2 separate regions of the Homo sapiens genome follow, and region 2 is linked to region 1. Evidence: fine-mapped expression QTL. A gene starts in region 1. The other region holds a variant in brackets. All regions are shown on one strand. Distances are between the middles of the regions. Region 1 holds the start of ERBIN (erbb2 interacting protein). Region 2 overlaps ERBIN (erbb2 interacting protein).

What was found. PIP is the estimated chance that this variant, and not a neighbour inherited with it, causes the effect. A credible set is the group of variants that fine-mapping cannot tell apart.
Region 2: its variant is the best candidate, but not a certain one, in a credible set for the expression of ERBIN in whole blood (INTERVAL, PIP 0.85).

Annotation. Positions count from the first base shown.
Region 1 is chr5:65,923,377-65,928,760 of GRCh38, reverse strand. ERBIN (erbb2 interacting protein) reads right to left here and starts at 2,186. Exons shown (of 26, transcript NM_001253697.2): 1 at 1,955-2,186. RefSeq lists enhancers at 2,033-2,252, 2,213-2,837, 3,743-3,962, 3,462-4,086 and a silencer at 2,333-3,422.
Region 2 is chr5:65,967,699-65,973,082 of GRCh38, reverse strand. The region is part of intron 1 of ERBIN (erbb2 interacting protein); the gene reads right to left. Among named protein-coding and RNA genes, the nearest start is that of ERBIN, 44 kb to the right of the region's middle. The variant C/T (reference allele first, on the strand shown) is at 3,076.

The DNA of each region.
Region 1 (5,384 bases):
TGATAAACTAACAGAATTCCAAGAAAACTACGAAGTAAATTATGCCTTGTTGAGGAGAAAAAAAAGAAACACAAAGGTGAACACCTCACTTCATAAAACGTGTTGTCTGCATCGAAACATACTACTCTTCTCCTGAGAAAAAAAATCAAGAACTAAATCTAAAAATAGAGGCTTAAATAGTCATTTTCAAGTGCTACAATACTTTTTTTATACAAAATTTACTAATAAATAACCATCTTCATAAAGCGATAATTCTCTGTAAGGGACTTGCTCTATTAAGGTTTTGTTGCTTTTGAAGCCAAGTATAAGCCATATAAGGAAACTGAAGTTCAATGCCATTTATTTTGTTCACCTCTTTCAGATGCCCAAGAATAACCTCTTTTGCAGCCTAATGATACGTTCCAAAATCATAAAGTAGATGAGTTATGCACTTTAAATTCTTTGATAAAGCTAGTTTGACTTAACAAGAATTATTCCATGGTTCACAAATCTTACCAACAATGAAAAAAAAAAAGAATCTCCTGAGACCATGCCCCGGGGAGGAAAAAAAAAATCAAAACTACAGTAATAAATAAAGGACTGCCTTTGGAGATGTACTTAATGAAGCTGAAGTAGCAAAGAACAAATTGTGAAATAATTTGATCCTGATCTTTAAAACTTATTTTTTCTCTTTGAACTAAAGAAAATCAACTCTCTCCTCGGGTTTCCGGTCATTACGTGAGACAGCATAGGCAATCTAAACATCAATATATATTTAGGATATACCTACCAACAGGATTACCAAATTTATTCAATATATATTCAAAAGTACAGTATTGTATTTCACCTCCCTGTACCGCAAAAATACCGGGAAAAAAAGTAAACAGAAAAAGACTAAAACACCACTGAAAAAAACTTTGGGTTTACTGCTATCAAAACTAGTCCCCATTGGTTCAGAAGTGTTCATAGCTCTGACTGGTGGAATGTCTGCCATGCTTCATGAATCCTGCCCCCACAGATGTAGGCAGAACCTATCACTATTTATGCAGAACCGACCAAAAACATTTGGGACAACACAAAAATGTAAAGACCATACTACTCGAAAAGCACAGCTTTTTATCACAATCACTGTGATTCCCTTGAAAATCGTTTTAAGCGTTTTACTTCCCCTCCCATCGTCTGTTCTGAACTGTACAGAAGTCCTATTAAACGTCTTACAGGTTGTTAATGTTGTTTAATTATCTCTCCCTATTCTTAGTCCTTACTCCTTTTTTCTTCGTAATGGATCAGTTACAAGAAAAGCCTAGTCGATCCTTGCTTTCAATTAATTAAACAAGTTATACGGCGCTAAACGTCTGAAAAACACACACTACACACAACTAAAGAAATATATTACTCACCCTGAAAAACAACTAAGAATGGCAAGATTTTTTGGTTTCTAAAATCTAACTAAATATACTGATCAGGGTTGGAAATAAAAAAATAAAAATAAATACCTCTATATACAATTAACGCAAGCGCCAATATAATCGGTATGAGTATAAACAAACGCGGCAGCCATCTCAATAACAGCAAATCACTCACTGCAGCGACCAAACTTTCTTCCCAAACAGAAGGTGCCTGGCTGAGCAACTTAATATACACTCTATACGTTCCAGAAAGCCAAAACTTCTGGCCCCTGTGCTGAACAAAGGCAATCGTTCTTCGGATTACTAAAAACTTTTCGTCCCACCGCATTCTTACAACCTCTTCCAAAAAATTCAAAGTCCAGATGGTGGGGGGGGCAGGGGGGAGAAGGGACGCGGTGGGGTGCAGTTCGATTATTTAGCCCCTCAATTATTAACCGCTTCGATATGAGAAAAGGAGGGTTTAGGGCAACTTGGAGAAGAGTGAAAAACACTAAAGAATCATCTCTTTTCCGAGTCACAAAGTCCCATGAACTTTGTGACTCAGAGACACTTTTCGTGAAAATTACCTTTCGGCGGGACACCGTCTCAGGGCAGCTTTTTCAAGGCTTCGCTTGACATGATTTCCTTCCCTTCATCAGTCACTTTGGATCCAGCTGAATATCTCTCTCGGGTGAGAGCGGATGTGGACTGGCCTCCCACAGAAGAAGAGTAGGTGGCTTTGGTGGGGGTTGGGGTGCGGGCTGGCTTCCTGGTCTCGAGTTTTGCAGGAGTTTCCCAGCCCCAACGAGGATCTCCGCCGAAAAAAAAAAAAACAAAACTTTTCACTCGTGACACCGCCCGGAATTGCAGTGCGAAACTCACTTCCTGCCTTGGCGAGAAGCAGGATCCAGCTCCGTCCAGGGGAACCCGGAAAACCAGCTCCGCGCGCACCGGAGAGGGGGAGGGGAGGGGACGGCCGCCGGGAGCCTCGGGTTCCGGGCAACCGGCGCGCCCGGCACACCGGACGGCAGCAGCACCCGGCCGGCGGGGGCGAGGACGCTGCCCGGGCGCTCGGCGAGCCTCGGCCGCGCTAGGCCGCCACCGCTTCCTCTCCGTTGCCCCCAGAGCCGGGCGGCAGGGTTATTGTCTCGATAGCGCTTGCCGCGCCCTTCGTCCGCGACGCCGCTGCCGCCGCCACCCGGAGCCGGAGCCGAGGAGTCGGGCAGGCTCAATAGCGGCCCCCTCCCCGGGCCGTCCGTCGGGCCGTCCGTCCTTCCGTCCGTCCCTCCCCGCTTTCCCTACTCGCCCTCGAACCCTCTTCTCCTCCCTCTCCCGTTTTCCCGCCACCGTCCCTCCGCTGCCCTGCTTGTTCTCCTTCGCCAGCGGCGGTGGCTCCCCGAGACGCGCAGGGGGCGGGAGCAGGAGGCAGCTCCGTCTCCTCACGAGCTTGCGGGGCCGCGGCAGGGGCCGAGACTGCGTCCCGCGCCGCCGCGCCACATTCACTCGAGCGAGAGACGGCGAGGGGAGGGAGGACGGAGGGAGCGGAGAGAAAGGAGGAGGAATGGGGCAGGGGCGGAGGGGAGTTACTGCCTCACAGGCCGCGGCGGCAACAGCGCCACCGCCCCGGCCGCGACGGGTGAAGAGGCTGCGCGCCGCGACTCTGCGGCGGGGGCGGGGGCGGGGCGGCCTCCCGCCGGCTTCGCCCCAACCGCCAACAGCCGGGCAGGAGGCCTGCGCGGGCCAGTCAGCGCGCGGGGGCGGTGCGGGCCGACGTCGGCGGCTGGGGGCAGCGGGCCGGGGGCCGGGGGAGGGGCAGCCGGCGGCCGTGGGTTCGCGTGCAAGGCGCGCCGTGAGGCCCACTCTGGCCCAGGCCCCTCGAGGCCTGCCCGCTGCTCCCTGCCCGCTCCCCGACCCCGCACTCCCGGACTCCCGAGCCCCCCAGGGTGGGGAACGCTGGCAACGCCGACCCTGCTGTCTGCTCGCGGCCCAGCGCCCAGCCAGAGAGATAGAGAGCCCACAGGCCTCCGCCGCGCCGGCCGATGGAGTTTCTTTGTACGACAGTAATCGGTGCACAGGGGTTGTTGGAGTCCAGCCCTGATTTGAAGGCAGCAGGTATCTCTTGCAGCTGCAGCACTCCAACTTCCTCTAATGGCACGGTCAGGTCGCAGGAAACCACAGCGGCAGCGCGGTGCAGCTTCCCACGCCCGCCCTTCGAGCTTGTTCCCCAGCGGCGCAGCTCAGCCTCCTCCAAGTCTCAGCCTCATACCGGCGGGGAGACAAAGCTGGCGCTGGGAGTGGGAAAAGGGCCCGCGAAATGGCCTCAAGATCGTGCCTTTGTTAGAAGAAACATGGGTACGCTCCGATGCGACGCAGGCTTCCAACCCCAGCGGTTCGGTGGTGGTGCAGTCGTTGAATTGCGCTGGCCCTAATAATTCAGCCTGGCAGGGTTCGCGTTTATTGCGGAGAGAGACTCTTAAGCATTCTGTCAACACATATGGCAAATAGAAAGCCTCAACCATAACATTGCACAGTTTTTGCAGTTCTTGCTTTAAATATGTTCACAGAAAAGACGGCCTTGTTTTACCCAGAGAAGGAGCGTAATGCGGAGCGAACCATTCGTCACCCCCATTCTCTGCTGCACTTAACTGTGTACAGTGATGATAATTAGCCTCTGGGTCCCTGAAGTCCCTGGTTCAGTTCTTCCGTCTGTATTCTAGAGATAATTATTTATTACCAAGTTTGAATAAAGAGCTATATCCCCTACAGACCTTTTTTTTTTTTTTTTTTTTGGCTTGCCAATGGAAAGAGTTCATAAATTCCACCAAGTAATCATTTACCAAAATGAGTTGTACATTAGTTGCAAACACTTGAAATAACGCCGAAGATATTCAAGTCATTTTATTCAGGTTGGGAGCATTTTTAACTACTTGAAGAACTGCTGGAATTAATACAGATGTTAGGTTATTTAGCATACAGCAGAAGTTGAAGATTTACAGGTAGTACTGAAGTGTTCAGATATATTCAGTGCTGAATTAGAGGTAAGAGTATTCGCTGGAAGCTAGGAAATGGCAGCAGCTATGCCAGTGTTACCAAGCTGGATATCTATGTGAAAATGAATCTTAACCATTGCATAAAAAGCTAAAGTTAGCATATTGTACAAGCTATTTGTAATCATCGCTGGGAAGATTTCTTGCTCCGTTTTCAAAAACCGTTTTGCGCCTGATCAGAACTCAGTGGCATAGCTCTGAACTGAAAGGGTCACTCTCCTAAAGCATCCCAGGATGGAATATCTCCCATACTAGTGGAAAACCAGCTAGATTCTGGGATTCCAGTGTTGCTTCTAATCTCAGGTTGATTCGAGACCCCTTTAAATGTGATGCCATAGATTCGAGTAAACCTAACCCTCCTCTCTAAACTTAACTGATCAAGCCACTGCTTTAGGCTAAGACTTGCCCTGGTCCTAGCCTTTTTAAAATTTATACTCACACTCAGGACCAATCTGACAGACTACCATCTAGGCTAGAAAAGTACCTATAATCAAAAACCCTCCAACTCACCTGAAATTCTGCCATTAGAGTTTTATCCCTTTAAGTAGTTTTTTTCTCTAGCACAAAACCATAATCCTGGGAAAAGTAATATTTTAATCCTTATTAGTCATTTATACCTAATTCATCAGATTGTTTCCCCAAAGCAGCTTTTGTTGGAAGGGAAAAATAGAGATAACTAGAGATAACATATGCTGAGGCTGAGTTGATAGGAGACGGAAATATAGTCTCATTCCTTGGAGCGTTATATAGAGAGTAGAGGATTACAGGCAATAAAAGGACCCTTTTGATGGCTAAATAAGTCCTGCTTACTCATACTGTAAGAATGAGCCACCTAATACACTGGCCTTAAGAGGATGGAATCTGGCCGGTTGCAGTGGCTCGCACCTGTAATCCCAGCACTTTGGAGGCTGAGGCGGGAGGATTGCTTGAGCCTAGGGGTTCAAGATCAGCCTGGACAACATGGTGAGAC
Region 2 (5,384 bases), 44 kb before region 1:
TATGGCTGCATAGTATTCCATGGTGTATATGTGACAAGGCCCTAATTTCTTAAGGTGAATTTCTTTATAAGTTTATTCTTTCCCCTAAACTGAACAGAAGGAACAGAAATAAAAGAACCAAAAGGAAACCGAAAAAAACGTAGGAATTGGCAAAACAATGAGAGGTCAGGTTGAAGTTCTCATTTTCCTTGGGGTTAATTTAGGCTGGGAATGATTAGGAACACCAAAAACCTTCCAAAGAAAGCTAGATCACTCTCAACACCTTATTACAGCAGGATTTTCAAAGGTTAATTATTACCGCTTATAAGTAAAGCTTTAAAATACCACCACTTGATGACAATCTTATCTTTAAAAAGTTTCACTTTTTGTAGCATTCAGATCTATTTTAGGAATAAAATCCATAATCCTGTAAAACTATCCCAAACATCCCTTAAGGCTGAAGATTTATTTTGTAAGTGAAATAGTATAACAGATATGGAGAGGAAAAGAAGAAAAACAAAAATTTAAGCTTCTACTTAACCAAACATTATTTTGAAAGTACTTAATTTTAAGTAACAAATATTCTTTAAATTTTTCTGTAGAAACTATGGGGTGCTTAGTGCCAAGTTCATTCACATACATGGCACTCCCCATCTCTCTAAAGTACTTTATGCATGTTGAAATATAATCAAAGGTCACAGGACAAATAAGAAGTCTTAGATGCAAAGTTTAATAGCATTTGCGTAACATCAATGGTTCTCAATGAGTGTAAGGACACCGCAGCAGGTCCACAAATGTCAAAGCTCCACATCATAGTAAGTCCACTGTCAATATACCTATTGAGAAAACACTTATATACATATGGATTTTTGTTTTTGCTGCAATAAAACTCCATGGCCCAAGGGTGAGAGACAATCTAATATTTCAATGCTAAGAGTCTGGCAATACTAAGATGGACAATAAATATCCCCCAAAAATGACATAGCAGACCCCCTTGGAATAGCCCCCCAATTCACAATGACTCCTCCTTTCTCTGAGAAAAGGTTACCACAAATCCATAAAGCACCTTTGTACAAATTTTAAAACTGCAGCCCTTATAGGCATACAGCTTGGCAAGCAGCATGTGGAATAAGCAACCTGCACAACATAGAAGCCCTGTTGTGAGAGCTATTCTCCCTTTTGAAAGGGGTGGCCCTCTAACATCTATTTTGGTACCAGGTAACACTGCCCTCCTAGATGGAGCAGATTGGAAAGGGAACGGGCACCTGACTCAAGCCAGTCAATCATTTGCTCTCTCCCCAGGATATGTAAGTGGGACTGAAAGATAGCAAGTCTGTCCCTGCATTTAGCGGAACTGTAACATCTGAAGCCATAATCTATGGAGCTGCCGCCTTCTACCATATGGACATAGAAAGAGAATGCTCATCTGAAGAGAGAAAAATAAAATATAAAATATAAAAGAGTGATGGTTTTGGACTCCTGATGGCCTTCCAGTTATTTGTTCTAATTCTTTTCTGAGACTAACTGCATTCTAGCTGTTGAGTGTCCATAAGAAACTATTACATCCTTATTACCTTATTTTTACTGGTTTTGGTTACTTTCATCCAAGGAGTCTCATTAATATACTTTACTTATACCAAAGCTTTTGAGCTGATATCTGAAAGTTCAAATAAGTGAAAATTCATATATAAATATGATCCTCCATTATTTTGCAAATCACTCTGTCTCTATCTTTCTACCCACGCTCAAGGGCTCAATACCTATTCTTCTAAAAAGGGAACTTTGTGTTCCAAATTTAGGAAATCTAAACCTGAAAACCTGATGCAATACAGGCTTTGAACACTGAAAAAAAAAAAAACCAGCATGCACAAACAAGATAAATCTGCAATTGTCACAGTCACTTCTAGACACCTGGTTGTCTTTTTCATTACACCTCAACCAATTTAGATTTATCATCAAAACGACTAGACTTCCTGGGCACAAAAAGGTCAAACCTAAACACTTTGGTAGCAATTCTGGACTAAAATAACAAAAGGAATCAGTCAAATTAACGTTGAATGACCATATTTGGCTTTCTGATGCTAAATACAACAAATACAAATATGACAAATATGTCAGAAAGAAAACAAACATTTGCTGAGTTACTACTAGGTGCTGAACACTAAAGATACAAAGATAAATGGTCCCTGCCTCAAGGAGTTTCTAATTTTAGATAAAACATGATAGCCACCCAGCCCAGTGGCTCACACCTGTAATCCCAGCTGAGGCAGGAGTTGAGGCCAGGAGTTTAAGACCAGCCTGGGCAACACAACAACACCCTGTCTCTAAAAATAAAAATAAAAATAAAATTAGCCAGGCATGCTGGTGTACGTCTGTAGCCCCAGCTACACTTGGGAGGCTGAGGCAGGAAGATTGCTTGAGCCCAGGAGTTCAAGGCCACGATGAGCTATGATTCACGACTGCACTCAACTCTGAGCAAAAGAGCAAGAGCACGTCTTAAAAAGAATATAAAAAGTTACAAATGTGGGGAAAAAGGAGACCAAATAGTCTGGTGGTAAGGGAAAACAGTCAAATAGGACAGAATAGAATATATAAACCAAAGTGTAGAATCTCTCTACATACAGAAAAATAGTAGTTAGTGTTGCCAGCAGACAAACTTCGGTAGGATAGGCTTTGAAATATATAGGAATGACGTTAGGGTAGTCAGCAGGGGGCTAGAACTTAAAAGCTTTAAATACCATACTAAGTAATATAGACTTTGACTGGTAAGCAGCAGTTTTTAAGACTTAAAAGCAAAGGAGGGACATAGTCTAATTTAAGTTTTAGACAGATCACTCAGTTAGCAATGCAGAGCTAAAAACAATCCTGATACTATTTAGCCAGTAGTATGACTTATAAAATATGAGGGGAATGTCCCTATACCATCTCTTTCACTGCTTGGTTTAATAAACAAAAGTCATTAATAATTTAACAGTGTAGTCTTCATACTTCACTAGATTATGTAATTTGACGTAGACAATTAAAATGTCATGCTTTCTTCTGTTGCTGATTCAATTACTTTGGGGCAAGGTAACAAAAGTGAAACCACTCAATATA[C/T]GAAAACCAGGTCTTTAAAAAGAGAAACATCTGAAGTTTATCATGCTTAATATTAAAAAACAATTAATAGTAATTCCCTAAACAAAAATGGCAAAACAACTAAATCTGATTATTGAAAAATAACAATATATGACCACCTTGGAACAAACAGAACTGAAAAGCTAAGATATTTGAACAATTTAGGAAGCAGTATCTGAAACTACTGTTCCTAGAAAGCTATGTTTATATGTGGTTTTTATTTGTTTTTGCTCCCTGGGGGAGCAGGGGGTGAGTTTTAGAGTGACACAAAATCAAGCTGTGTCAATGCAACTAGTTAAAACCTGCATATTTCAACACTTGACAATATAATTTTAATAGAAGGAATTCCCAGATAACAAAAAGCCTACCAATAAATCACTGAAAATTCAAAAACAATATAGCTGAACACAAAAGTAGCTGGCTTTGGAAATAATACTGCTTTACATTTGAGTCTAGATTCCACCATTTATCATTCTGTAATCCTGAACACACTACCTCTTCAATCTCAGATTCTTTATGTTAAAAAACAAAGGGCATAAAAGCTACATTTTCGTTAGCTGTTCTAAGAAACTACGAATGTCCAACACAAAGCCATATTGAGTGGCTTTACTTGTACTGCCTTTCCCAAAAGTAACTGAATCAGCAACAGAAAACATAATTATACATAAGCTGAATAAATAATAGTTTTTCCTTTCTATTGAAGATACATAAGAGTAACTTGTTTCTTTGAAAATATTTTATATATACTATTCATACTCACAGGTACTTTTTGTGTTTTCCTGTTTACCTGTTTTATTGGGTGTGGGGTGACCATGGCTTGCTGGCATGCTTGTTCTCACATTAGCATTTTTTTCTTTTTGCTTTATCCTCCCGAAATTGACACATTAGCATTTTTTTAATTGACATATATCACAGTAGCATAAGGTCAATACTAACTCTCATTCACTTATATGCCCTTAAACGCGGTATTGCATTATTTTTACTAAAAGAAGGGAAGAGACCTCTCAATCACGATATTTCCCTTCTTATTTGAAACAAAGATTTGGGAAAACAAAGTAGTTGCTTCGTTCATCTACTTATTTATGAATTGAGCTACATAATTTCTCCAAATTTAAAAATAAAAGCAATAGGCCAGGCGCAGTGGCTCACGCCTGTAATCCCAGCACTTTGGGAGGCCGAGGCAGGTGGATCACCTGAGGTCTGGAGTTTTGAGACCAGCCTGACCAACACAGGGAACCCTGTCTCTACTAAAAATAGAAAAATTAGCAGGGCATAGTGGCAGGCGCTTGTAGTCCCAGCTACTCGGGAGACTGAGATAGGAGAATTGCTTGAACCCAGGAGGTGGAGGTTGCAGTGAGCCAAGATCGGGCCACTGCACTCCAGCCTGGGCAACGGAGCAAGACATCGTCTCAAATAAATTAATTAATTAAATCAAAATTAAATAAAAGTAATAATGCAAGTAATTCTGCCTACCTTCCTTCTTTACTCAATAAATGTAGGTCTTGTAACTAGTTTGATAGTGATGTCAATTTTCTTTTCCACAGAGCCTCTCAAAGTCTGGTAATTGCACCTTGCTGAATGCTACTCTAGTACTTAAATATATTTTCCACACAAGAAAGGCACTGAACACAAGCCAAATATATCTTATTTGATATTCAGTTGAAGAAACAGTGACTTTTTCTTGAACCTATAGAAAATCCTCACCGTGCCGGACAGAGAATGTATAATGGTCTCCCCATCATGATACCTTCTACTTACACTGACTTTAGAACTTAATCCCTAACCAACAAGATGCCACTATTTTGTAGAATGAGGTTGTGGTAGGTATAACATTTTCCACAAATTCTTTTACACTTCTCCCCTCAAGAGGTGAAATCCTCTTCCCCGTCATTGGAATAAGAGCTGGTCTTGGTGACACGCTTCTTAAAAACAAAATATAACAGAAGTGATGCTACATGACGTCCAAGGCTAGGATAAAAAGGCTAATACAGTTGCCACTTAGGCTTTTGCCCTTTTCCTTTCATCCACTTGCCCTCTGAAACCAGCCACTTGCTGTAAGGAAACTCAAGTCTTACCGAGAAGTCACACGCAGGTGCTCTGGCTCATGGCCCTGGCAACCATCTAACTGCAACCACGTAAGAATTTGAGCAAGAACCAACTAGCTAAGCCAAGATGAGCCCCAGACCCATGATAGGTAATACTGATGACTCTTCTTGGTTTATAATATCACTAAGTTTCAGATGGTTTATTTCACAATAAATAATTGGTATAAGGTCTGATTAACCAAAGGC